7 linked regions of the Homo sapiens genome follow. The protein of the gene in region 5 purifies or fractionates together with the protein of the main gene of each other region. This does not show direct contact. Each region holds a gene or a part of one and is shown on either strand. Other genes may lie near its edges. The genes, in order: FAF2, DNAJC11, RMND1, UGCG, SLC35D4, HS2ST1 and ANKLE2.

Region 1 (3,500 bases), on a different chromosome or scaffold from region 5:
CACCCAGCCCTTGTCTTTATTTTGAACATCTCTAAGAACAGATTACCTGATATAGAGTAATTTAGGTCAAAGTATGTAAATATTTTGACAATAAATGGGCAAAGCTAAAAGCTAATAGCGGCCTGATGCACAGAAGAAGTCAGGATTGGTAGAGCCCCAGAGGTCAGCCCTCCAAATTTACAACTGGTCTCTCTCTGTTCCAGAAGGGAACTCCCTTGTACCTTTCTAGGCGTTCTGACACCAGGTAAGTCTGGTTAGCATCCATGATAAATGTCAGTTGGTTAATGAGGTCATCAGGTTGAATGAGGCCTTCTAGCCGTCCCACCACAGTCATCCTTCGATCCTTCAGCATAATCATGGCCAGGAATGGATAGGTGTTCTCTCGTAAAGCCTGTGAGACTGATAAAAAGACCCAACAGATCAAGGGCAGGACTTGACGGTGAAAAAGATCAACCCTTAGACTTTCCACAATGAGTGAGAGAGAACTGTTTTAATCCTGGTTGGGGAAGACGAGAGGTATCATTTAGTCTCCGCTTTTTCCCCGCCTCCTAGTTTCTTTCTTTTCTTTTTTTGAGCCAGGGTCTCACTATGTTGCTCAGGCTGGTCTCCAGCTCCTGGGCTCAAGTGACCCTCCCACCTCAGCCTCCTGAGAAGCAGGGATTACAGGAGTGTGCCACCATGCCCAGTTCCTCCCAGTTTTGTAATCTTTTGTTTTTGTTATCAATTTGCATGCCTATCCCTAGGTGCTTGACTAGAATAGGACAGGCTTTCCTGGTGGCGGTGTGGTTGTTGTGATGATGCCAGGGAAGGCTGCAGAGTTTAAGGATAATGTCTACTTGATGGTACAAAAAGGATCTATAAAGAATCTGGCACAGTTTTTCCCTGTACAAGGGCTCAAACCTAAAAGGGCACAAGGCTGCAAGTCTCAGCCTGATGATACTGATAATAATCTCCATCATCATTTTTTTTTCTCTTGCCTAATCCTTTCCTTATCCTTTCTCCCCACGTAACTTTTCTCCACCCTTAAAAAGGTTAGTTTTTCTGTTCCAAAGAAGCTTATTAATAGAAAGTTGAGGCTGGGCTGGTAGCTCCACCTTTAATCCTAGCACTTTTGGGAGGCGGAGGTGGTTGGATCACTTGAGGTCAGGGGTTTGAGACCAGCCTGGCCAACATAATGAAACCCCATCTCTACAAAAAATACAAAAATTAGCAGGGTGTGGTGGTACGCGCCTGTAATTCCAGATAGGCGAGAGGCTGAGGCAGGAGAATCGCTTGAACCCGGGAGGTGGAGGCTGCAGTGAACTGAGATCGCACCACTGCACTCCAACCTGGGTGACAGAGTAAAACTTGGTCTCAAAAAAAAAAAAAAAAAAATTGGTGTCCAAATGACCAAGATTTTTACCATAACAGAGTTTTACCTATGTTTTCCTTATGGTGTGAAATAAGAGATTTTATAAACTTCTATTAAAAAAAAATCCTTACCTTCCTTCTATTCACAACCTCCCTTCTGCCCCCTGCAAAGCCATATTAGAATGGCAAAACGCATGCAGGAATTTGGATGTTTAAAAACAATTAGGCTTAAGATTCAGACTCTGGGATGCAGGGACAACATCTGCCACATCTTTGGTTCTCAAGACATGGCACAGTATGTGGCATGCTAATATAAACTCAAAAGTTGCTGGATAGAAGTAGCCACAAAAATGACTACATTTTTCCTCACTGGATGCCTTCGTATCTTTTACTAACCGTCTAAAAATACTTATCTCCAAAGAAGAGTTATTGTCAGCAAAGATCTGAACTTTCCAAATCCATATCAGCACTCAAGGTACTCAAACAACTGACTCACTATGCAAGGGCTCTGTTAAAATCGTTGATGAAAAGAATAAACTCTTCAGTAAAAAGCCCATTAAGATTAAAAGCAAGCTGCTAGCCAAGACTGGGTATTTCTATGAATGTGGCAGGCTTTGGCAATGCTGAATGTGAAGAACGGGCTTTAGAATCTGGCAGACCCGACTGTACGCTACAACTTGCTAATTATGGCGGGGCACAGTGGCTCACACCTGTAATCCCAGCACTTTGGGAGGCTGAGGTGGGCTGCTCACTTGAGTCCAGGAGTTTGAGGCTACATGGTGAAACCCCATCTCTACTAAAAATACAAAAAAATTAGCTGGGCGTGGTGGTGCATGCCTGTAGTTCCAGCTACTCAGGAGGCTGAGGCAGGACAATCGCTTGAACCCAGGAGGTGGAGGTTGCAGTGAGCCAAGATCGCACCACTGCACTCCAGCCTGGGCGACAGAGCAAGACTCCATCTCAAAAAAATTTTTTTAATTAATTAAATAAAAACAAAAAAAATAAAACTTGCTAATTGTGTGATCTTCAGCCAGTGGCTTGAACTCTCTGAGCCTATTTCCTAAACCATAAAGCAAAGGTAATATGACCCCCCATCTCTCAGGACTGCTGAGAGGATTAAATGAGACAATATAAAATAGCAACTAGCGTCGTATCTACCACAGAACAAACACACTTGTAATAAATGGCATGGCATGTCTTTCCAGACTATTCCAAAGATACTCCAACAATCTCAATGAGGCAGAAGAAACATAACTTACCCCTGTATCCCTCAGGTTTGTTTGTAGAGCATGCCCAGAAGAGCATCCTAGTGTTTATTAGTGAAATAACTTCAGGTGCACAGAGTGTGTTGCTGTGGAAAGGTATGAAAAGGATATGAGAACAACTTGCTGACTATAAACTGTCACCAGAAAGAGTCAGAAAAGAGAAGGAAAATAATCAATCCACTTACCGACAAAACTCATCAGAGTCCTGGTGATCATCTCCATGAAGATAAACCAAAAGAAAGCGAAGCTCCCTTTTGGCATCGTTAAGTGCCTGTGAGAAAGAGAAGGTCACTCACTATTAAGAAGACTGTGCCTTGAGCTTATATTTAAGCTAAGGGTCCTAATGGATACAGTTATGTATTTAGGAACAAAAGGAAAAATAAGGAAAAAAGGTGAGCAAGAAATCAGAAAATTCCTGAGCTCCTACCTTCACACCCCTGGCATTGTTCTCCCTATAGAAACTCCACGCTAACAAGCTTTAATGAAAAGGTTTTAGTGTTGTTAGGATTCAAACTTAACAGACACATGAGAGTAGACAGGCTTACAAACACAGGTTCCCAACAAACCACAGAAAAGTCAGCTGCACCCACAGTCTAAGGAAGATAAAAACAGGAGAATCTGACCATATGAAAGGGAGGTGAGAATTTTTCTACTTCACAGCTACAACATCCTTGTAAGTAAAAAATAACTGCGAAGACAACCCTGATCCCAGGCCACATATCGAGTAGGAATGATGGACTGTACGATCCAAAGGCATTCTAAAGAGCATAGGGTGTAAAAGACTTTCAAAGACAAGGCTAGCGCCGAAGACTCCTGTGCGTGCTCCTGCATGTGCGTGCTCCTGAGCACATTACACTGTACGACTGCTGACATGGTCAAGGGTGG
Region 2 (3,500 bases), on a different chromosome or scaffold from region 5:
GAGGATCAACACTTTTTTTTTTTTTTTTTTTGAGACCGAGTCTTGCTCTGTCACCCAGGCTGGAGTGCAATGGCGCAATCTAGGCTCACTGCAACATCCACCTCCCAGGTTCAAGCAATTCTCCTGTCTCAGCCTCCCAGGTAGCTGGGATTACAGGCACGTGCCACCACGCCCGGCTAATTTTTCTATTTTTTTAGTAGAGACAGGGTTTCACCATGTTGGCCAGACTGGTCCTGAACGCCTCACCTCGGGTAATCCACCTGCCTCAGCCTTCCAAAGTGCTGGGAATACAGGCGTGAGCCACCACGCCCAGCCGAGGCCCAACACTTCTATAAACTCCAGTCCTTTCTGAGAGTAAGATTTACAAACGAAGAGATAACAGCAGTCCAACTACGGACAATGAGGAGAAATAGTTAACATTTACCAATCGTGACCCAGACATCAGCCTAAGTGCTTTACATGCATTACTTAATTCAGGTTTCCTCATCACCCGACGCAGGAGGCTCTGTTATCCTCTCCATTTTAAGGGTGAGGAAACTGAGGCACAGGGCTGGCTAGTGACATGCCCATGACGTGTCAACTCACTTCTCTTTCTGAGCCCTGAGGTATGGTTTGATGATCAGACGGTGCATGGCAAAGTAGACCACTAGAGGCCCCACGGTGGCATAGAACATGGCGCTGGGCAGAAGCTGGTCCGTCAAGTGAATAGGGAAGAAGTATGTCTGACTGGCCCTGTTGAGCCTGGGGAAAAATACAAAAAAAAAAAAAAAAAAGCCAAGATGAATCAGGTTTTCCAGGGAAGGGCAATGGGGTGTCAGGCACAGGAAGAGAACTTGTGCTGCGTGCAGCTGCGAGTTAAAGGAGCCTGCAGTCTGCTCCTTTCACAGTCCACCACCTTCTGGCCTCCCGTTCCAAAGTCTGGCTGATGGATCTGACACTGTGACAGAAGAAAGATCCCAGTGTCTGCTGACCTCAAGCCAAAGCAACAAGAGGAACACTTCACGGGGTCAACGTCCCCTACAGGTGCATTCAGTCATAGGCTGGAGAGGACAGGAATGGGCTCCTCCAGATGTCACTGGAGAGTCACATCTCAGTTCTTAACTGAGGTTTCCAAAGAAGTTAGTGAAGACTTCAAAAGTTAGTCAGTTAAGGAGGTTCTGCTTCCAGTGGTGGCTGAGTAAAGTAGCTCCTATTGGACCAATGTGTAAACTCTGGACCACATATAAAAAATTTGGCCAGGCGTGGTGGCTCACGCCTGTAATCCCAGTACTTTGGGAGGCTGAGGTGGGCGAATCACCTGAGGTCAGGAATTTGAGACCAGCCTGGCCAACATGGTGAAACTTCATCTCTACCAAAAATACAAAAATTAGCCGGGCGTGGTGGTACCTGTCTGTAGTCCCAGCTACTCGGGAGGCTGAGTGAGGCGGGAGAACGCTTCAACCCAGGAGGCAGATTGTACCACAGCACTCCAGCCTGGTCAACAAGAGGAAAAGGACTGAGGATGCATGGACAGAATCTCAGAAACCCGTGGAAGAGTGTTAAGTTTAATATATTGGTAATTAGAGCCCCAGTGAGGAAAAGGAAATTTACAGATGCAAGAAGTTTAGGAAACCCCAAGCATCATAAATACAACAACAGCCTTATCTATGTACATCACAAACTGCTGAAAAGCCAGAAAAAGAAAACATGCTGAGTAGCCACTGACAATACCTGATCACACTCTTCCAGAATAAAAGCTCTTCCAGAATAAAAGCAATTCCAGAATTGATAAAGAACACTCAAAACTTGGCCAGGCTCAGTGGCTCACGCCTGTAATCCTAGCATTTTGGGAGGCTGAGGCAGGAGGATCGCTTGAGGTCAGGAGTTTGAGACCAGCCTGGCCAACATGGTGAAACCCTGTCTCTACTTAAAATACAAAAATTAGCTGGGTGTGGTGGTGGGCGCCTGTAATCCCAGCTACTCAGGAGGCTGAGGTAGGAGAATTGCTTGAACCTGGGAGGTGGAGGTTGCAGTGAGCCAAATGCACTCCAGTCTGGGGTGCAAGAGCGAAACTCCGTCTCCAAAAAAAAAAAAAATATATATATATATATACACACACACACACACACACACACACAAACAGAGACAGGTTAAATGTGAATGGGTAAAAAAAATAAATAGTAAGCATAAGAAGACTAAAAAAGCTATATAGTAACAGATAAGGTAGACTTCAAGACAAAAATTTTTTTTTTTTTTTGAAGTGACAGGGTCTCACTCTGTCATCTAGGCTGAGGGGCACAATCACAGCTCACTACCACCTTGAGCTCCTGGGCTCAAGTGATCTTCCTGTCTTGGCCTCCCAAAGTGTGCGCGCCACTGTACTGAGCCTTCAAATATTATCTGAGGAGAGATGGCTGACGCCAGCTCTAATCTAGGTAAGTGATTTGGCTTTGTTTCCAAAACTGAGCTGTGATCCACTTTGATTCACTCACTGAGTTCCTCTCAAGTACCACGATGGGTTTTAGGTTCTAGAAGTGCGGGTGAGAATAAAATGGACCAAGTCCAAGAGCTTATGTCTGATGAGGAGTGCAGGAGATGGCCCTTCAGATGGAGACTGGCTCGTTGGAGATTGAACATGGCAAACATGGTGGGGGGGATCACCTGGGGCAAGGGGAAGGGCTACTATGTTATACAAGGTGAATTAGGGGACATTTGAGCAGACAGCAGATACTTACAGGGAGTGAAGGAAATGGCCACGTATTTATCTGCAGACTGAGAAATAGCAAAGGCCACCTCATAAGCAGGAGGGGGCCTGGTGTGTGCCAGGAATAGCTCCAGGGGGTCAGGATGGCTGGGGTTGGGGTAGAGAGGAGTACTACATCACGGAGGGCATTGTAGGCTCCAAAGTCTCTGAAGGGCTTTGGCCTCCGACTGGAATTGAGGGAACCTCTGAGGTTTTAGGCAGAAGACAGACGTGAACTGCCTTCAATTTTAAAAAGGACTCTCCTACGGAAAGCAGACACACAAGGAGGGAGACAGGTTCCGTGGGGAGGGTGCTGTGTAACTAAGACAAAGATGCTGGCCGCAGTGAGGTTGAGAAATGGCGAGACTGGGGATACAATTTTGGAGTACATGTTCAGGAGATGATTTTGAGATATGTATGATTTGGAGTGTGGGAGAGAAAGAGATCGAGGCTGACTCCAAGGTTTTTGGACAGAGCAAGTAGAAGGCCAGAGCTCTCATTTACTGAGATAGGAAAGGAGGCTGGGCGCTGTGGCTCACACCTGTAATCCTAACACTTTAGGAGGCCGAAGCGGGAGAACTACTTGAAGCCAGGAGTTCAAAACCAACCTGGGCAACCAAGTGAGACCCTGTCTCTATAAAAATAAAATAAAAAAAGAGAGAGAGATGGGAAAGACTTCGGGCAGAGCAGGTTCTGAAGGTTCTTCGTTTCTGGGGGCACAGGGAGGGATCGAGTTCTGTTTGGATACGTGACATCTGAGATGCTGTTAGGTATCCAA
Region 3 (3,500 bases), on a different chromosome or scaffold from region 5:
AAAACAGCTACAGTTCCCATAAACGTGTAAATGTTTGCTCTTCACCACAGAACTATGGGAATGTTTTCTTGAGATTGTTAAATATATGAAATATTTTATTTAGAGAGAAAACTTTTACCTTAGAGCAAAGAGTTCACCGATTTTCTGCATAACTTCTTCATGAGATAGTTTCACTTTCTTCCCAGCTTTTAAAGCCTAGTTGAGAGGGAATCGGAAAAACCAAAAAACCATGTATCTCTCTTTCTAATAAGCATTAGGTCAACAGGGCAAAATCTGAAGTGGCATAATTTGGATCCTATGTAAATATTTTTTAGGATGGCTGTCTCCCAGATTAATGTCTTAACTCACCTTGAAATTTCATAATTTTATTAGGTAGAAATTGTATATTCTCTTTTTTCATTTCCCTTCTCATCAGCATTTTCAATGATATATACATTCCTAATCTCTTAGTAGAAAAGCAGGGCCTCCTTTCCGAAGTATAATTAGATTACTCTTTCACAATAAAGACACAGTTAATTACAATATGATGATTTTTAATGTATACTGAAATTTCAATATAACTTTATATGTATTTTTCATACCACTATTTTTCTCATAATTTAGCAAAACACTTTCTTAAATCAGGAAAAGTGGTCATAATTTCCATTCTCAGAGAGAAACATTTCACTTTTTTCTTTAATTCAGTTACATTAAAAATACTGCAACTGACGGGCATGGTGGCTCGTGGCCTGTAATGCTAGAACTTTGGGAGGCCGAGGCAGGAGGATCGCTTGAGCCCAGGAGTTCAAGACCAGCCTGGGCAACATGGCCAGACCCCATTTCAATTATATTAATATTAAAAAAAAAATACTGCACCAACAGAGGAAACAATTTGAAGTTTTAAAAAGTAAAAAGTAATCAATATGAAGTTTCTTAATTTGTCATTTTATATGTAACTGGGAGTTCTTAAGTTTACTGTAGTTTTCTTATTGTTTGTAATAATGTTGTTGTACTCCTAAACAATCGGCCCTCTATAAGTTCTGCAACTGCAGATTCAACCAACTGCAAATTGACAGTATTTTGAGAAAAAAGAATGGTTGCATCTGTACCGAACATGTACAAACTGTTTTTTCTTGTTATTATTTCCTAAATAATACAGTATAACAACTATTTACATAGTATTTACATTATATTAGGTATTTTAGGTAATCTAGAGATGGTTGAAAGTATACATGAGGATATGCATAGGTTATATGCAAATATATACCATTTTATATCAGGGATTTGGACACTGGTAGATTCTGGTATCCAGTGGGGTCTTGGAACAAATCTCCCATGGATACTGATGGATAGCTATATATTGTTATATTGGGAAATTCATATTTTTTACATATAAAAATCAATCCTTGAATAAGCATAAAATTGATATAATTACCTCAGGAATTGACTGAATAGATTCAATAAATTTATCCAGTGATGCTTCCCAAATTGCCAGTTTTACTGGGAAAAAAATTAATAATGGAACATTTCTTTATCATCATATTCACATGTATATAAAATACATAATTGCACAGCATCTTCACTACTATTTCAGTAATAGTTTAAGAAAAAGTACTAAAACCTTGAAAATATAATTTAAGAATAGTTAATTATCATAAAGGACAGAATTAAAGTGGATAGAGGAAACTGAATCGCTTTCCATGCCCTATTGGAAGACCAAAGCTACATTTAGTAGAACTCTTGATTTTCTAGTATTACATCTTGGAAACTGAGGAGGGTAGGGTACACCTTGATACCATGGGTAGCTCTGCAGATAGGGCGCGACTAAGACTTTCCTGGCCTCCCCTTCACTCCTCAGGACTAAGAGTAAACCTCAGAAATCTCCGAAGCCCCTCAGAGTGGGATGGACAGGACGCTGCAGCAGCCACCTAAGGTAGACTGCTGGCAAAAGAAATTCTTAAAGAACTTGTATAGTTTTATTCGGGATGTGGATCTTTCAGAACAAACTTATAGCCACTGTGACTCTGGGTCCCATTCCTATGGAACACTAGAGTATGTTTTTCTACACTGGGACCTGTGCCCAGTCACACAAGGCTGGGCTTCTCTGTCTGGATTAGAGACTATCTAAGAATAACAATCGCATAGAGAGAAGAGAAAAAAACAAAGGCTAATATAATCATCATCTAAAAAATACTTTTGGAGAGGTTAAGCTTTATTAATACAATTAATAAGGAATGAGTAACTTCAGCACAGTACTATCTTTTATACTAGATATTTTTTCTGATGGAGGGAAAAAAAGGAAAAGGAATGCTAAGGCTTTGTTGAGTATTCTGAAAATATACCAAAATCGTGACTATTTAAACTTCCCTCAGTGAAATGACAACTGTAGTACCCTATCCCATAAGCAGTAGTAACTTACCAGAAAGGCATAGAGCATTGGAGAAAGCAAACTTCTCTAGAATGGCATCATCTAAATCCAGCTCTGAATTTAACTTGATTTCCCCCCTGTGAAGTTTTGACTGTCCCCTGTGAAAAGCAAAAAGATAATACCTTCTAAATCTTAAAAAGCACTTTAACTTTTCCTTTGAAAAAGACACCATATCATCTTTCTGGAGGTCATTTTGACAATTTGTATCAAGAGTGTTACAAATGTTCTCATATCCTTTGGTCCAGGTAATTCCCTTTCTAGGAGTTTATCCTAAGGAAATAATCTAAGATGCAAAGAAAAATTTGTATACAAGAAAACTTTTTTTTTTTTTTTTGAGACAGTCTCACTCTGCCGCCCAGGCTAGAGTGCAGTGGTGCGATCTCAGCTCACTGCAACCTCAGTCTCCTAGGTTCAAGCGATTCTCCTGCCTCAGCCTCCCTAGTAGCTGGGATTACAGGCATGCGTAACCACACCCAGCTAATTTTTTTTGTATTTTTAATAGAGATAGAGTTTCACCATGTTGGCCAGGCTGGTCTTGAATTCCTGACCTCAAATGATCCACCCACCTCGGCCTCCCAAAGTGGTGCGACTACAGGTGCGAGCCACCTTGCCCAGCTGAAAACTTTTAAAAAAATGGTCAGTGTTGGCTGGGCACGGTGGCTCACGCCTGTAACCCCAGCACTCCGGGAGGCCGAGGCAGGTGGATCACGAGGTCAGGAGATTGAGACCATCCTGGCTAACATGGTGAAACCCCGTCTCTACTCAAAACACAAAATAAAATTAGCCGGGTGTGGTGGCGGGCGCCTGTAGTCCCAGCTACTCGGGAGGCTGAGGCAGGAGAATGGAGTGAACCCGGGAGGCGGAGCTTGCAGTAAGCCGAAATCACGCCACTGCACTCCAGCCTGGGAGACTGAGCAAGACTCTGTCTCCAAAAAAAAAAAAAAGGTCAGTGTTTAAGAGTAAAAAATTAGGAAATAAACCAAATGTTCAGTAGGGGTTGGCTCAGTAATAGTCACTCCACACAAGAAAAACTTAAAAGTGTGTTTTGGAAGGATAGTTAATAAAAAGGAGAACGTTCACAGTAAATTTCTAT
Region 4 (3,500 bases), on a different chromosome or scaffold from region 5:
TGGTGAAAACCAAATACAATGGCAAATGTTCCACAGGAGACTAAAGTTAAACCACTGAAATCACGCATATCTGAGCATGAACAGACAAGGCATTTGTGTCACCAAGAAGTCAAGGAGACCCAAAATAAACATTTACGTGACTGCCAGGCGCAGTGCCCTTTCATATTTGCATTTTGCCTGGTGTGAACATCGTTTTACCAGAGTATGGAAATGTTTTCATTTTGGACATAACTTTCTCTTCTAATATTCGATTGGGACTATCATAGGCCATTTGGGGGAAAATAATAAAACATATCTTCAAGTTTTAAAATTTTACTTAATTTTGGACATGTGCAAGAAAATTTACTGCTACTGGTACTTGCTCTGAATTTCTAGGTTTCAATTTTGGTGAGACTAGACTAGTTGCTCTGAAAGATCTCTGCGCTGTATTCATCTTACAAGTCTACTTTTATACTGATACTCATTCCTTGGGAAGACATAAAAGAATGAAAAGGTGATGCAGTTCATTTTCCACAGCATTGAACACTCATTTGTCACCAGCGTAGAAGGGATTTGGGGAGAGATTAAGCAGTAGCAGTAATAGTCAATAATCTGCGTCTAAAGTGGCTTGCTGGCTTTACTTCAGTAAATTCTGGCCATGTGAAGAATACCTAAATCAACTATCAGAGTTCTTAACAGTGAACCTGTCATAACTATGATTTTTTTTTCTTTTTTGCAATTATAGAATTGATTTTTTTTTTCCTTTTGAGGCAGAGTCTTGCTCTGTCACCTGTGCTGGAGTACAATGCCACAATCTCGGCTCACTGCCACTTCCGCCTCCCGGGTTCAAGCAATTCTCCCGTGTCAGCCTCCCGAGAAGTTGGGATTACAGGCGCATGCCACTACCGCTGGCTAATTTTTATATTTTTAGTAGAGAGAGGATTTCATCATGTTGGCCAGGCTGGTCTTGAACTCCTGACCTCAGTTGATTCCCCTGCCTCCGCCTCTTAAAGTGCTGGGATTGCAGGTGTGAGCCACCGTGCCTGGCCTGATTTAACAATTTTAATACAGGGATTCTTAGCAAATAAAATATCTCATCAAATTGTGAAGACACAGAGCTGATAGCTGAAAAATGATTCCTGGTTAAAATCTGATACTTTAGAAAATACTTGGAATGCTGCCTCCAATTTGGTGTAATTTCCAATATCAAAAACAAATGAATCTTATGTATTTGAGTCTGAACTTTTTTTTGGATAATATGAATATGAGTCTCATTTACACTCTGGCTAATCAGAAAGTATTTGTTTTTAATTAAAAATTATGTTTAAGCAGTGTAATCAATAAAAATTAAAACTTCAAGGCCGGGGGCGGTGGCTCACGCCTGTAATCCCAGCACTTTGGGAGGCCGAGGCGGGCGGATCACGAGGTCAGGAGATCGAGACCACGGTGAAACCCCGTCTCTACTAAAAATACAAAAAAAAAATTAGCTGGGCGCAGTGGCGGGTGCCTGTAGTCCCAGCTACTCGGGAGGCTGAGGCAGGAGAATGGCGTGAACCTGGAAGGCGGAGCTTGCAGTGAGCGGAGATCGCGCCACAGCACTCCCGCCTGGGCGACAGAACGAGACTCCGTCTCAAAAAAAAAAAACAAAAAACAAAAAAACAAAAAAAAACACTTCAAACCTTGCATCTGAATAAAGGCAGACTGTACCTCCCTTACTTATAACCTCCCTACTTAACACTAGTATAGCATTTTTCTTCCCATTGAGTATATTTCTAGTACTATATTTTTACAAAGTTTTCTCTTGCTGGGGAAAATAAAAGCTAAGATTAGTTTTTTATTGTACTTTATGGAATTGCATTACTTATAAACATTTCCTTTCATCATATGTACTCATACTCACAAAATAGCATTAAAAAAGCATTAAAGGCTGGGCATAGTGGCTCATGCCTGTAATACCAGTACTTTGGAAGGCTGAGGTGGGCAGATCACTTGAGCCCAAGCATTCAAGACCAGCTCGTCGTCTGTACTAAAAATACAAAAATTAGCCAGGTGTGGTGGTGCACACCTATAGTCCCAGCTACTCGGGAGGCTGAGGTGGGAGGATTGCTTGAGCCTGGGAAGTTGAGGCTATAGTGAGCCAAGATCACGCCACTGCACTCCAGCCTGGGTGACAGTGAAAGACCCTGTCTCAAAAAAAACCATTAAAGATACTATGCTGGCTGGGCACAGTGGCTCACACCTGTAATCCCAGCACTCTGGGAGGCCGAGGCAGGCAGATCACGAGGTCAGGAGATTGAGACCATCCTGGCTAGCACAGTGAAACTCCGTCTCTACTAAAGAAAAATACAAAAAATTAGCCGGGCGTGGTGGCGGATGCCTGTAGTCCCAGCTACTCGGGAGGCTGAGGCAGGAGAATGGCGTGAACCCTGGAGGCCAAGCTTGCAGTGAGCTGAGATAGCGCCACTGCACTCCAGCCTGGGTGACAGAGCGAGACTCCATCTCAAAAAAAAAAAAAAAAAAGAAACTATGCTATGTTTGGAAAAACAAGGAACTCTTTAGAGCAAGCCTGGCTGAGCAGCCTCCTATAGTAGGAAAGCTCGTTGTTACTTTTGCCGTTTGAAAAGTCACTTAACCTCTCTAATCATTATTGTGAAGGTCATTGCCTTTTTGGTGGCTCAGCCAAATATTGTTTTGAGAGTCTGGATGGGAGGCTGACTGACACTTTCTGTGACTTAGAGTCAGCTCTTAAGGAAATCTCAGGAGGGTGGTAGAAGTAGGGCCCTTTCCATTTTCAGATTTTTATCTGGTCTCTGGAGACCAGGTAACTGTCAAGTTGGTTTCAGTACCTCTTGAGTGGCAATTTTCGTCAGTCATCATTAGAGGTAGATATTGGATAGAATATATAATAACAGCAGTATGTAGGTAGAAAGTATGAGGAAAATATACATTGTTTTCCTCATCGACTTAATTATTAAGAAAACATGTTTTTCATTTGACAAAAAATCTTATTAGCTAACCTTCTTCATTAACCTTAGTCTTGGTTCTTTTGTGATCAACTGCAAATTTCTTTTATTTTTATTTTCCCCGAGACGGAGTTTCACTCTTGTTGCCCAGGCTGGAGTACAGTGGCGCAATCTCGGCTCACTGCGACCTCCCTCTGCCTCCCAGGTTCAGGCGATTCTCCTGCCTCAGCTTCCCAAGTAGCTGTGATTACAGGTGTGTGCCACCATGCCTGCTAATTATTGCATTTTTAGTAGAGACGGGGTTTCACCATGTTGGTCAGGCTGGCCTCGAACTCCTGACCTCAGGTGATCCACCTGCCCTGGCCTCCAAAGTGCTGGGATTACAGGCTTGAGCCACCACGCCTGGCCCACAAATTTTTTTATTGGCAGTTTTTGCTGAGATTATAGGTAGTGGGCAAACAATTGTTATTATGCTCACAGGCACTATAAACATTTTATTTCTACTTTTTACTTGTGTATGCTTATCATTGGAAGTAAATATAACAGACTTTGTCGTTC
Region 5 (3,500 bases):
GAAATGGATGTTTTTGACAGTTTTCTTCCAGCTTTCTAGCTGTTTTTTGGGAAGAGGTTTCATCAACCTCCTCACTCTGTCATGCCAGAAATCAATATCTCAGCTACTTTTTACATTCTGCTAGAATTGGAATTATTAATGCTATTAAAAAATAGGCCATGTGGACCGAGCACAGTGGCTCACACCTGTAATCCTAGCACTTTGGGAGGCTGAGGTGGGTGGATCATTTGAGGTCAGGAGTTTGAGAACAGCCTGGCCAACATGGTCAAACTCCATCTTTACTAAAAATACAAAAATTAGCTGGGTGTGGTGGCGCACACCTGTAATCCCAGCTACTTGGGAGGCTGAGTCAGGAGGGTCGCTTGAGCCTGGGAGGCAGAGGTTGCAATGAGTTGAGATCATGCCACTGCACTCCAGTCTGGGCAACAGAGTAAGACCCTGTCTCAAAACAAAACAAAACAAAAACAAAAACAAAAACAAAAAAATGCATGGGGGTGAAAATATCATTAAAAATCTTATTTTCAAAGCAAAATGTTTGAGGTTTTTTTTCTGGAGAAACTTCAACCCATAAAACACAAAGATGACTAAAAGCCCAAGTTAAATAATGATTTCATTAAATTAAATTTAATTAATTAAGGAGGCTTACTCCTTGAAAGCAGCATCTAGAGCTCTACAACTTGCCTCCCTCACAGGCACTAAGGAAATGAAACGTGCCAACAGAAGTTGGCCCCACCATGTTTCAGTTAAGATTGGCCATCCCACAGCCACTTCCCCGCTCCTTCTGTTTCTTTGTGGTTCCCCCACCACTTTATCTTATGCTTCCCCCATAGTCATTCGGATACACAGAGGTTGTTCTTAGAATAATCCCTTTTCTAAGGTTTCATAGAAATGCCCCAACCTGGCCATTTGTCTATCTTCCTTTCTCTATCACCTTGGATCGACTGAGTCCCCTTGTGTAAGTCACTTGAGCTCTGGACACCTGCACAGCCTCCAGGAAGGAAATAAGGAGCCTATCCATGATTGTCTTCCAGGACTGTAAGAAAGATGAAATATGCCATGTTGATAAAATGAGCAGGCCTCAGAAATCGTTACCTGAATGAAGGAAGGATCAGGCTCAGGGACAGCGCCTAGAAGTGGTCTCATGAAGCTCAAACAACTTCACATTACCCAGGTTCTGAGATCTTTGGATACACAGGCTCTTGAGAGAGAATTTCCCACCCCTCTTGTCTCTTACCTTAGCAAAGAAAATCCAGGCTGCACACTGCCCTGGGGCCAGAAGGTTTTTTAGCTTCACTGTACTGAACATGAGAAAGAATCCCAAAAATCCACTGGAAGGAGAAAAGATTCTCTTGTTAGTGAGGCTTGTCTTCCCTTAGCCAATGGCTGACTAGTGTCTGCTACATTTTACCAATCAATTTCAAATTATTATGCAACCTCTACCTCATCTGTGTTTTCTAGATCTGTGATCTCTGGATGAAAATAAAAAAAATTTTAAAGTCATTAAGCTCTGCTTTTCTAAGGAGCTATGGTGGGAGAATTTTGATTAGAGGAATGGTGCAAAGAAATTTCAGAGGCCTCTGGCTAAATCATGAAAGAAAAAAAAGGTGGAGGACAACACCTCTTGTTCCTTCCCATAGAACTTCTGGAGTTTTGGTGCTTGGCAAGGCAGAGCTTAAATTTTTTTCAAGCAAGATAAACTGGCAGGAAAAGACTTCCAAAGGGAAACTCACCATGTGAGAAGAGAGAGTCTGGACTGGCCTCCAGGCTCAAAAGAATCTGAAGGGGAAGGCTGGCTTCAGTGACACATATGGCTGAGGCCAGAAGTCCCCCAAACCAGGCTGTCCTGCCATAGGAGGTATGCTTTGGAAATGGTGCCTACACATGTGTGTGAATGGAAAGATCCCCACTCGAGAACCTGAGGAAGGGGCAGCATCTTGGGGCTATTCAGGAGTGTGGACCAACAAGGGCGAGGGCACAGCAGTGGATGGAGATGTAGTTGCCTGTGCTGCAACTATTTCCAAAAGTGCCCTGTGTGGCCAAGGCCAAAGCAAAGGGAGCTCCAAATGCTTCCTGACATTTGAAGGCAGGACAACTGGGGAAGAGGTGAGACAGACAGTGTGTGTGTGTGTGTGTGTGTGTGTGTGTGTGTGTGTGTGTGTGTATGTGAGAGAGAGAGAGAAAGGCTGACTTCATGCAAATATGTGCAAGTGGTGGTTTGAGTGTGACTGTTATTTGAACTTGAAAATTGCAAAGTAAGAGATATGACTGCAGTTGTAACTCCAAGCTAGAGAGGCAAGCCCTGTGAGTTGTACTTCATTTGCATCTCCAGACCCTTGACTGCCACACTTCCATCTGACCTTATACAGGCACTGGTGCGCAGCTCCAATACTGATCATAAACTCTGAGCAGGAAAAGCCCAATCTTGGGCTGCTCTTCGTATTTTCAACGGAGCCTAATATGGTGCCTCAGTTACGGTACACATTAACTAAATGCTTGTCAGGTTGAATTGGAAGCAGACTGAATTAATTGAACACACCTAAGGCCAAATGTCACAGAAATGTGTACCTTCACTTCATTAGATTAGACTAGTTCACAGCCACATTCTTGGGGCAGGACTAAAGACAGGCATTAGGTTTCCCCATGTGTATTTCAGCCTGTTTGGCCCTAATGACCTGCAAAGTTTGTTCCAATTTGCATCAGCAGTCATGGGAGGCTGAACAGCTATGGATTAAGATGTCAAGTTACTCACACCCAAAAGGCAAAGAGGGCCCGTGGGTAAGCAGCAGGCCTACCCAATCACACCCAGCGCCTGGATTTCTATTCCTCACTGTGCTTACTGACCCTCGTAACCTTAACCAAATCCCCCTTCCCACCTTTTTGTCTCAGGTTCAGTTGCCTTAAAGTAGAAATAATCATAGCAGTCCTCATCCTATCTTAATGGAAACCAGAGGCTTTTAGAACAGTAAGATTACCTATCCCCAAAGTCTCACTTTATTAACAATGAAACTGGGGCACAGGTACAATTAGAATCCAGGTCTCCATGGCTCTTCAGATCTCTGGACCAGCAAGGGCGCTGGCACAGCAGTGGACAGATGTAGTTGCCTGCGCTGGAACTATTTTCAAAAGTGCCACTGTGTGGCCAGAGCCATAGCAAAGGGAGCTCCAAACTCTTCCTGGCATTTGGAGGCAGGACAACTGAGGAAGACGTGAAGCTTCATGGAAATGTGTTCTTGACCAGCTAGACAAAGAGTGAGATATGGCCAGGTGCGGTGGCTCAAGCCTGTAATCTCAGCATTTTGGGAGGCCGAGGCGGGCGGATCACGAGGTCAGGAGATCAAGACCATCCTGGCTAACACGGTGAAACCCCGTCTCTACTAAAAATACAAAAAAAAAAAAAAAAAAAAAGAAAATTAGCCTGATGTGGTGGCGGGCACCTGTAGTCCCAGCTACTCGGGAGGCTGAGGCAGGAGAATGGGTGAACCCGGCAGGCAGAGCTTGCA
Region 6 (3,500 bases), on a different chromosome or scaffold from region 5:
TTTTCACGTTCACCTGGAACATTTACCAAGATAGTTTTTTTTTATTTGTAATTGACAAAACTGTATATATTTATCATGTACAACATGTTTTAAAACATGTATATATCATGGATGGCTAAATCAAGCTAATTAAGACAACATGCATTACCTCACATACTTTTTTTTTTGGTATGGTGAAAACACTTAAAATCCACTCTCTTAGCAATTTTCAAGAATACATTGTGACAGGAGAATGAGGGAAAGCTTCGGGAACCATGTCTTTAGGTAAGTGAGGCAACAGAATCAGGTGCACAAATGACCGAACAGGAGCACTGACAGTTACCATCTATTGTTAACAGGCAGAAAGGCAGAATACGTAAGTACAGGTACTGGTAGGTGGGTAGATCTTAAAAATAACTAGGCTATAGTGAACCATGATTATGAAGTTCATCTATAAGTACATCCTTCAAAAATGGTCTTCTGGAGAGCAATCTTTGAACATTCATTATTATTTCAATTTCTCTAAGTGCCAAAAAGCTATTAGAAGGCCTACCAGAGTGGTGGACAGACATCCTGGAATTATCTTAATTGAGATCAACTATTTCAGGTGACTACTCCATGGCACTAGACATCCTATTCAAGACTAAGTGAGGCACCAATTACCAATTCTAGAATAACTGTATTCCTATTAACCCAAAGTCCTCAAAACAGTAGCTACTATGAGGTTTTCCAAATGATTTCAGAAGTGAGGAAATCTAGCATTCTCTGGAACATCTTACAGGTATTGCTGCATGGTTTCAGGAACTTACTTGTAAAAACTACCAAATTCCAAAAAGCAGTCTCAACCTTGGCCCTGGAATTAGTTGTTTAGTCTAGTAGAGTTTTAAGAACATAATGACTAACATTAATTCTCACCAATGGATGATTACATAATCCATTCTCAATTATTTTCCCCATGTAAAAGATTATTCCTAATGTGCTCATAAATCCATATAGAGATGTAAGAATACAGTCAACAAATATTATTTACAATGCTAAAACCCTATAGAAAATAAAGTTACCAAGCACATAGTTCTATCACTTATGTGAGAAAATATTTCACTGCACTGTTCGACCAGTCAATATTAGCAACAAGTGCGCTCTTGAAATTCGGGAAGAACTACTTTTTACCAGCCACAAATTCTGACATTTTATAGTAACGAGTCACAGTTAAATAGTTTTCATTTGGATTCCCTGTCCTTTTCCATTTCTCACTAGAAAATTAAGTCTACATTTTAATACAATGAAGTATTAACTTCATTTGAAGTTGAAAAACTTCTCTTTTTCACAGGTAATAAGCTTATCTCCTAAATTTAACTCACAATCTGCACGTTATGTTACTAAAAACAAAAAAAAGTCCACTAAATATGAAACATCTACTATAAATCTGTGATCCTTGCCATTAAAGGAATCACATACTCCTTTGCAAATCTGATGAAAGTTATGTATATAATTTCAGGGAATTCACTGATACCTTGAAGCCTATTTATGGGTCCCCGAGGTTTAAAGAATCTCTGATTAATGGAAAATAGCATCCAAAATTGATCCAAGAACATATGAAAACTTAGTATGTGATTAAAAGAAGGAATGTTAACATACAGTTGGAAAAAATGATTTACTGAGAAAATCATGATAAATCTCTGTAAACATACAAATGGTTTAAAGAGCCAAATGTAATAAACTATAAAATACTATAATAAAATACAGAAAATGTACACAATCCTGGCTCTGGGTAAGTCTTCCTAAGCAAAATATGAAAACGACTTCCCTAAATTGATAGATTTAACTGTGTGTATTTTAAAACTTCTATATGAGCAAAACACACCATAAAGTCAAGAAACAAATGGCAAACTTGGACAAAAACAAATAAGAGGCCGGGTGCAGTGGCTCATGCCTGTAATCCCAGCATTTTGGAAGGCAGAGGGGGGCAGATCACTTGAGGTCAGGAGTTCAAGACCAGCCTGGCCAACATGGTGAAACCCTGTCTCTACTAAAAATACAAAAATTACCTGGGCGTGGTGGCACGTACCTGCAATCCCCGCTACTTGGGAGGCTGAGGCAGGAGTGAGCCGAAATCGTGCCACTGCACTCCAGCCTGGGTGACAGCAAGGCTCATCTCAAAAAAATAAATAAATAAATAAATAAATAAAAATAAAAAAAATTTAAAAAAGACATAGGATAGATAAAGGATTACTAATTCTAATATTTAAAAAAAAAAGTAAACCACCCAATAGAAAAATAGAAAAAAGTAACAAATAAAAGGGCAATAAACATGTAAAGATGTTCAACCTACCTAGAAATTAGAAGGTAAATTAATTGAATATATCATTTCACAGCTTCACACTGGCAAAAATTAAAAGCTGATTATCTTCTAGTGCTAATGAATGTGTGCTGGCAGTGTAGATTACTACATCTTTTGAAAAACAAAAAAATGTTGAAAAGTAGATTTTTAAATCTGTTAAATTATAAAATATGTATATTCTTTGTCCCAGCAATCTCACATACAGAATTCATCCTAGCACAAAATGACATCAACATGAGTTAAACGGACACATAAGGATGTTTCCTATAATTGTTTATAATACCAAGAAAGAAAAGAAACACTCAAAAAAATTATATATATATGTATATATACACACGCACACACACGACAGATGGGGGACAAACTGAATGTCCGTTACTAGAATAATGGCTTAATAATTTATGATACATGCATACTTTGGAATATTATACAGCTATTATTAATAGAATGAGTAAGTCACATCTATATGTACTGACCTGGAAAGATGTGTATAACATTCAAGGCAAAAAAAGCAAGCCGCATTGTAATATGTGGACTACAATGCCATATTTGTTTTTTAAAAAATAAAAATAAAAAGCTGTATTACTGAATTTTTTTTTTTAGGAATTCCTAATTAGTGAATTTCCCAAGTAGTCAATGAGTACACCTCAGTTTTGAATACATCTATTGCTCTATTAGAAGTCTCACCATCAAAATACTGTACTCTCAAATCAAGGTATATTAAAGCCACTATCAGACAATACTATCCTTTGGAATCTTCTACAATGAAAATGATAATAACTACTTTTAAGGACAAAATGTTTAATAGGTTTTTTATGCCAAAATAAAAATGCTTTTTTAACATTGTGATTTTGCACGTATGGAAAACAGCTAGATTTTTCTTTCCTATAGTAAAAATAAGCTATCTAATTCAGTTGTTTCATTGGGTAACATAATTATGTTCATTACATGAATCTAAACAAGGGGCAGACGTTACATTAAACCAATTCCTTTGTATCAGAAATTCAATTTTCTCTGAATGATATTCATTCTTAGCAATAAATGCAATTAAACACTGATATTACAATTTTAAAACTCTATTCAAATACCTAAATCTCAGCGTAATGTCAATATAAAGTCTTAAGCAGCCGGACATAATTAAAGGAGCACTTGATTTGGAATCATACATACCTGGGTTGCA
Region 7 (3,500 bases), on a different chromosome or scaffold from region 5:
GGGTCTGACGGGATGCGCACATCTGTTTCTCGTCTCTTGGTGTTTTTAACGTAAAGGTCTGGTACTTTCCCTTAGGTTAGTATTTTTTGAGACGGAACCTCTCTTTGTTACCCAAGCTGGAGTGCAGTGGCGCAATCTTGGCTCACTGCAACCTCCACCTCCTGGGTTCAAGCGATTCTTCTGCCTCAGCCTCCTGAGTAGCTGGGACTACAGGCGCCCGCCACCACGCCTGGCTAATTTTCGTATTTTTTTTTTTTTTAGTGGAGATGCGGTTTCACCGTATTGACCAGGCTGGTCTCGAACTCCTGACCTCGTGATCCACTAGAGTGCTGGGAAGGTTAATGTTAAATGGGTTGTGTGTCGGGGAGGGTACATGAAAAATAATGGCATCGCTTTGAGCAGTATTGCTGTTTCTGCTTGTGTTTGCATTATCCAAAATCTAATATAGTTTCATTCTGTGCCGTTTTCTCAAAACTCATAATAGCTGAACTCCATTGGCTGAGCCTGATATTTTAGATTTGGTATATTTTCAGGAAAAAGACGAGTGCACATCAGAATACTGGTGTATATCAGACACCAGGGCACGAAGCGCCTTGCACGGTGCGTATCAGACACCAGGACGCAGAGCGCTTCACACAGTGCATATCAGACACCAGGACGCAGAGCGCTTCACACAGTGTATTTCAGACACCAGGACGCAGAGAGCTTCACACGGTGCATTTCAGACACCAGGATGCAGAGTGCTTCACACGGTGCATTTCAGACACCAGGATGCAGAGCGCTTCACACGGTGCATATCAGGCACCAGCACGCAGAGAGCTTCACACGGTGCATATCAGACACCAGGACGCGCAGTGCTTCACACGGGGTATATCAGACACCAGCACGCAGAGAGCTTCACACGGTGCATATCAGACACCAGGACGCAGAGAGCTTCACACGGTGCCTGTCAGACACCAGGACGCAGAGCGCTTCACACGGTGCATATCAGACACCAGGACGCAGAGAGCTTCACACGGTGCACGTCAGACACCAGGACGCAGAGAGCTTCACACGGTGCATATCAGACACCAGGACGCGCAGTGCTTCACACGGTGCATATCAGACACCAGGACGCAGAGAGCTTCACACGGTGCATATCAGACACCAGCACGCAGAGAGCTTCACACGGTGCATATCAGACACCAGGACGCGCAGTGCTTCACACGGTGCATATCAGACACCAGGACGCAGAGAGCTTCACACGGTGCGTATCAGACACCAGCATGCAGAGCGCTTCACGGTGCATATCAGACACCAGGACGCAGAGCGCTTCACACAGTGCATATCAGACACCAGGACGCAGAGCGCTTCACACAGTGTATTTCAGACACCAGGACGCAGAGAGCTTCACACGGTGCATATCAGACACCAGGATGCAGAGCGCTTCACACGGTGCATTTCAGACACCAGGATGCAGAGCGCTTCACACGGTGCATATCAGACACCAGCACGCAGAGGGCTTCACATGGTGCACGTCAGACACCAGGACGCAGAGAGCTTCACACGGTGCATATCAGACACCAGGACGCGCAGTGCTTCACATGGTGCATATCAGACACCAGGACGCAGAGAGCTTCACACGGTGCATATCAGACACCAGGACGCAGAGAGCTTCACACGGTGCGTATCAGACACCAGCACGCAGAGCGCTTCACGGTGCGTATCAGACACCAGGACGCAGAGAGCTTCACACGGTGCGTATCAGACGCCAGGACGCGCAGTGCTTCACACGGTGCATATCAGACACCAGCATGCAGAGAGCTTCACACGGTGCGTATCAGACACCAGCACTCAGAGAGCTTCACACGGTGCATGTCAGACACCAGCACGCAGAGAGCTTCACACGGTGCATATCAGACACCAGGACGCAGAGAGCTTCACACGGTGCGTATCAGACACCAGCACGCAGAGCGCTTCACAGTGCGTATCAGACACCAGGACGCAGAGAGCTTCACACGGTGCGTATCAGACACCAGGACGCAGAGAGCTTCACACGGTGCGTATCAGACACCAGGATGCAGAGCGCTTCACACGGTGCGTATCAGACACCAGGATGCAGAGCACTTCACACGGTGCGTATCAGACACCAGGACGCAGAGCGCTTCACACGGTGCGTATCAGACACCAGGATGCAGAGCGCTTCACACGGTGTATATCAGACACCAGGACGCAGAGCGCTTCACATGGTGTATATCAGACACCAGGACGCAAACGCAAAGCGCTTCACACGGTGCACATCAGACACCAGCATGCAGAGAGCTTCACACGGTGCATATCAGACACCAGGACGCAGAGCGCTTCACACGGTGCATATGAGACACCAGGACGCAGAGCGCTTCACACGGTGTATATCAGACACCAGGACGCACACGCAAAGCACTTCACACGGTGCATATCAGACACCACGATGCAAAGTGCTTCCAAAGCACAGATGCACTGAATGGAAAGAGCATGATGGAAGAGGTTAATCTACAAAATCTAAAAGTGATTCATAAAAACATCAACGATGGCCGGGCACGGGAGCTCAGGCCTGCAATCCCAGCGGCCGGGCGTGGCGGCTCACACTATAATCCCAGCACTTAGGGAGGCCAACGTGGGTGGATTGCTGAAACCCAGGAGTTCGAAGGCAGCTTGAGCAACATAGTGAGACTCTGTCTCTATTTATTTTTTTAAAAAAACAGAAATTTGCTAATAACTAGAGATTCGAATCTGCTAAAATACAAATTAAAGCAGATATACAGTTTAAACTGTGTGTGTGTGTGTGTGAGTGTGTGTCTGTGTGAGTTTGTGTGTGTAAGGTCATAATAGAACCATTAGCCCGCAAGACACTTCATTTATAAAACAAACTCCCTGGAATGATAGAAAATGAAAATGATTGACATACATTAAACTAAGAAGCAGTGAATCTTCAACAGTCACGACCTGTGACTCTGAACCACAGAACTAGAGCGACGTCAGTGCCGTCGTTATACAGGAATCATTGAAGTCTGACCTTGCTGTGTTGTAGCTGATGGTGGCACAGAACTCACTTCTGTAAAGCGGCCTCATTTACAGTGTTGTCTTGTGACTATGTACATTTTAATTAGTAAATATTAAATAAAGTTGAGGCATTTCCTAAGTAGCAGGAGCCACAGCTCAAGTGTTCTGGATCCTCCTGTGGCCGCGGCCACCATCGTGAACACCAAACGGGACATTTCTGTTGCCTGTCGCACAGTGCTGCGCCCGGGAGCTCTTCTGTGTTATCTTCACACCTAAAGCGCAGCAGGGTTACTTCATGGAGTTGTTCTGGACGATCTTCGGGATCCTCTGGGGCACTGTGACACTCGGAGCCCCTGGGGTCGCAGCAGATCGGAGCTGGAGGGTGGCTGGGGGTGCAGGGCAGTCATCTCGCCCATCACCTGGGCTGCCCTTGGCGTTTTCATGTCCCTGCCTTTGAAAGAAAAGTCAGCCTGGCAGCT

Evidence for each region.
Region 1: the proteins of SLC35D4 (region 5) and FAF2 purify together in Homo sapiens (affinity purification with mass spectrometry; one large-scale study listed by BioGRID and IntAct). This does not show direct contact.
Region 2: the proteins of SLC35D4 (region 5) and DNAJC11 purify together in Homo sapiens (affinity purification with mass spectrometry; one large-scale study listed by BioGRID and IntAct). This does not show direct contact.
Region 3: the proteins of SLC35D4 (region 5) and RMND1 purify together in Homo sapiens (affinity purification with mass spectrometry; one large-scale study listed by BioGRID and IntAct). This does not show direct contact.
Region 4: the proteins of SLC35D4 (region 5) and UGCG purify together in Homo sapiens (affinity purification with mass spectrometry; one large-scale study listed by BioGRID and IntAct). This does not show direct contact.
Region 6: the proteins of SLC35D4 (region 5) and HS2ST1 purify together in Homo sapiens (affinity purification with mass spectrometry; one large-scale study listed by BioGRID and IntAct). This does not show direct contact.
Region 7: the proteins of SLC35D4 (region 5) and ANKLE2 purify together in Homo sapiens (affinity purification with mass spectrometry; one large-scale study listed by BioGRID and IntAct). This does not show direct contact.

The regions. Positions count from the first base shown.
Region 1 is NC_000005.10:176,493,385-176,496,884, reverse strand, and holds part of FAF2 (FAS-associated factor 2), read right to left. Parts: intron 2,887-3,500; coding exon 2,801-2,886; intron 2,702-2,800; coding exon 2,610-2,701; intron 400-2,609; coding exon 222-399; intron 1-221. UniProt on the Homo sapiens protein: Plays an important role in endoplasmic reticulum-associated degradation (ERAD) that mediates ubiquitin-dependent degradation of misfolded endoplasmic reticulum proteins.
Region 2 is NC_000001.11:6,639,317-6,642,816, forward strand, and holds part of DNAJC11 (dnaJ homolog subfamily C member 11), read right to left. Parts: intron 742-3,500; coding exon 586-741; intron 1-585.
Region 3 is NC_000006.12:151,421,127-151,424,626, forward strand, and holds part of RMND1 (required for meiotic nuclear division protein 1 homolog), read right to left. Parts: intron 2,506-3,500; coding exon 2,399-2,505; intron 1,480-2,398; coding exon 1,415-1,479; intron 196-1,414; coding exon 119-195; intron 1-118. UniProt on the Homo sapiens protein: Required for mitochondrial translation, possibly by coordinating the assembly or maintenance of the mitochondrial ribosome.
Region 4 is NC_000009.12:111,917,314-111,920,813, forward strand, and holds part of UGCG (ceramide glucosyltransferase), read left to right. Parts: intron 1-3,500. UniProt on the Homo sapiens protein: Participates in the initial step of the glucosylceramide-based glycosphingolipid/GSL synthetic pathway at the cytosolic surface of the Golgi.
Region 5 is NC_000018.10:23,350,962-23,354,461, forward strand, and holds part of SLC35D4 (UDP-N-acetylglucosamine transporter TMEM241), read right to left. Parts: intron 1,329-3,500; coding exon 1,235-1,328; intron 1,034-1,234; coding exon of another isoform or gene 932-1,033; intron 1-931. UniProt on the Homo sapiens protein: Golgi-localized UDP-N-acetylglucosamine (UDP-GlcNAc) transporter that transports UDP-N-acetylglucosamine into Golgi lumen.
Region 6 is NC_000001.11:86,917,635-86,921,134, reverse strand, and holds part of HS2ST1 (heparan sulfate 2-O-sulfotransferase 1), read right to left. Parts: intron 1-3,500. UniProt on the Homo sapiens protein: Catalyzes the transfer of a sulfo group from 3'-phospho-5'-adenylyl sulfate (PAPS) to the 2-OH position of iduronic acid (IdoA) or glucuronic acid (GlcA) within the heparan sulfate (HS) chain and participates in HS biosynthesis.
Region 7 is NC_000012.12:132,730,833-132,734,332, reverse strand, and holds part of ANKLE2 (ankyrin repeat and LEM domain-containing protein 2), read left to right. Parts: intron 1-261; coding exon of another isoform or gene 262-317; exon of another isoform or gene 318-474; intron 475-3,500. UniProt on the Homo sapiens protein: Involved in mitotic nuclear envelope reassembly by promoting dephosphorylation of BAF/BANF1 during mitotic exit.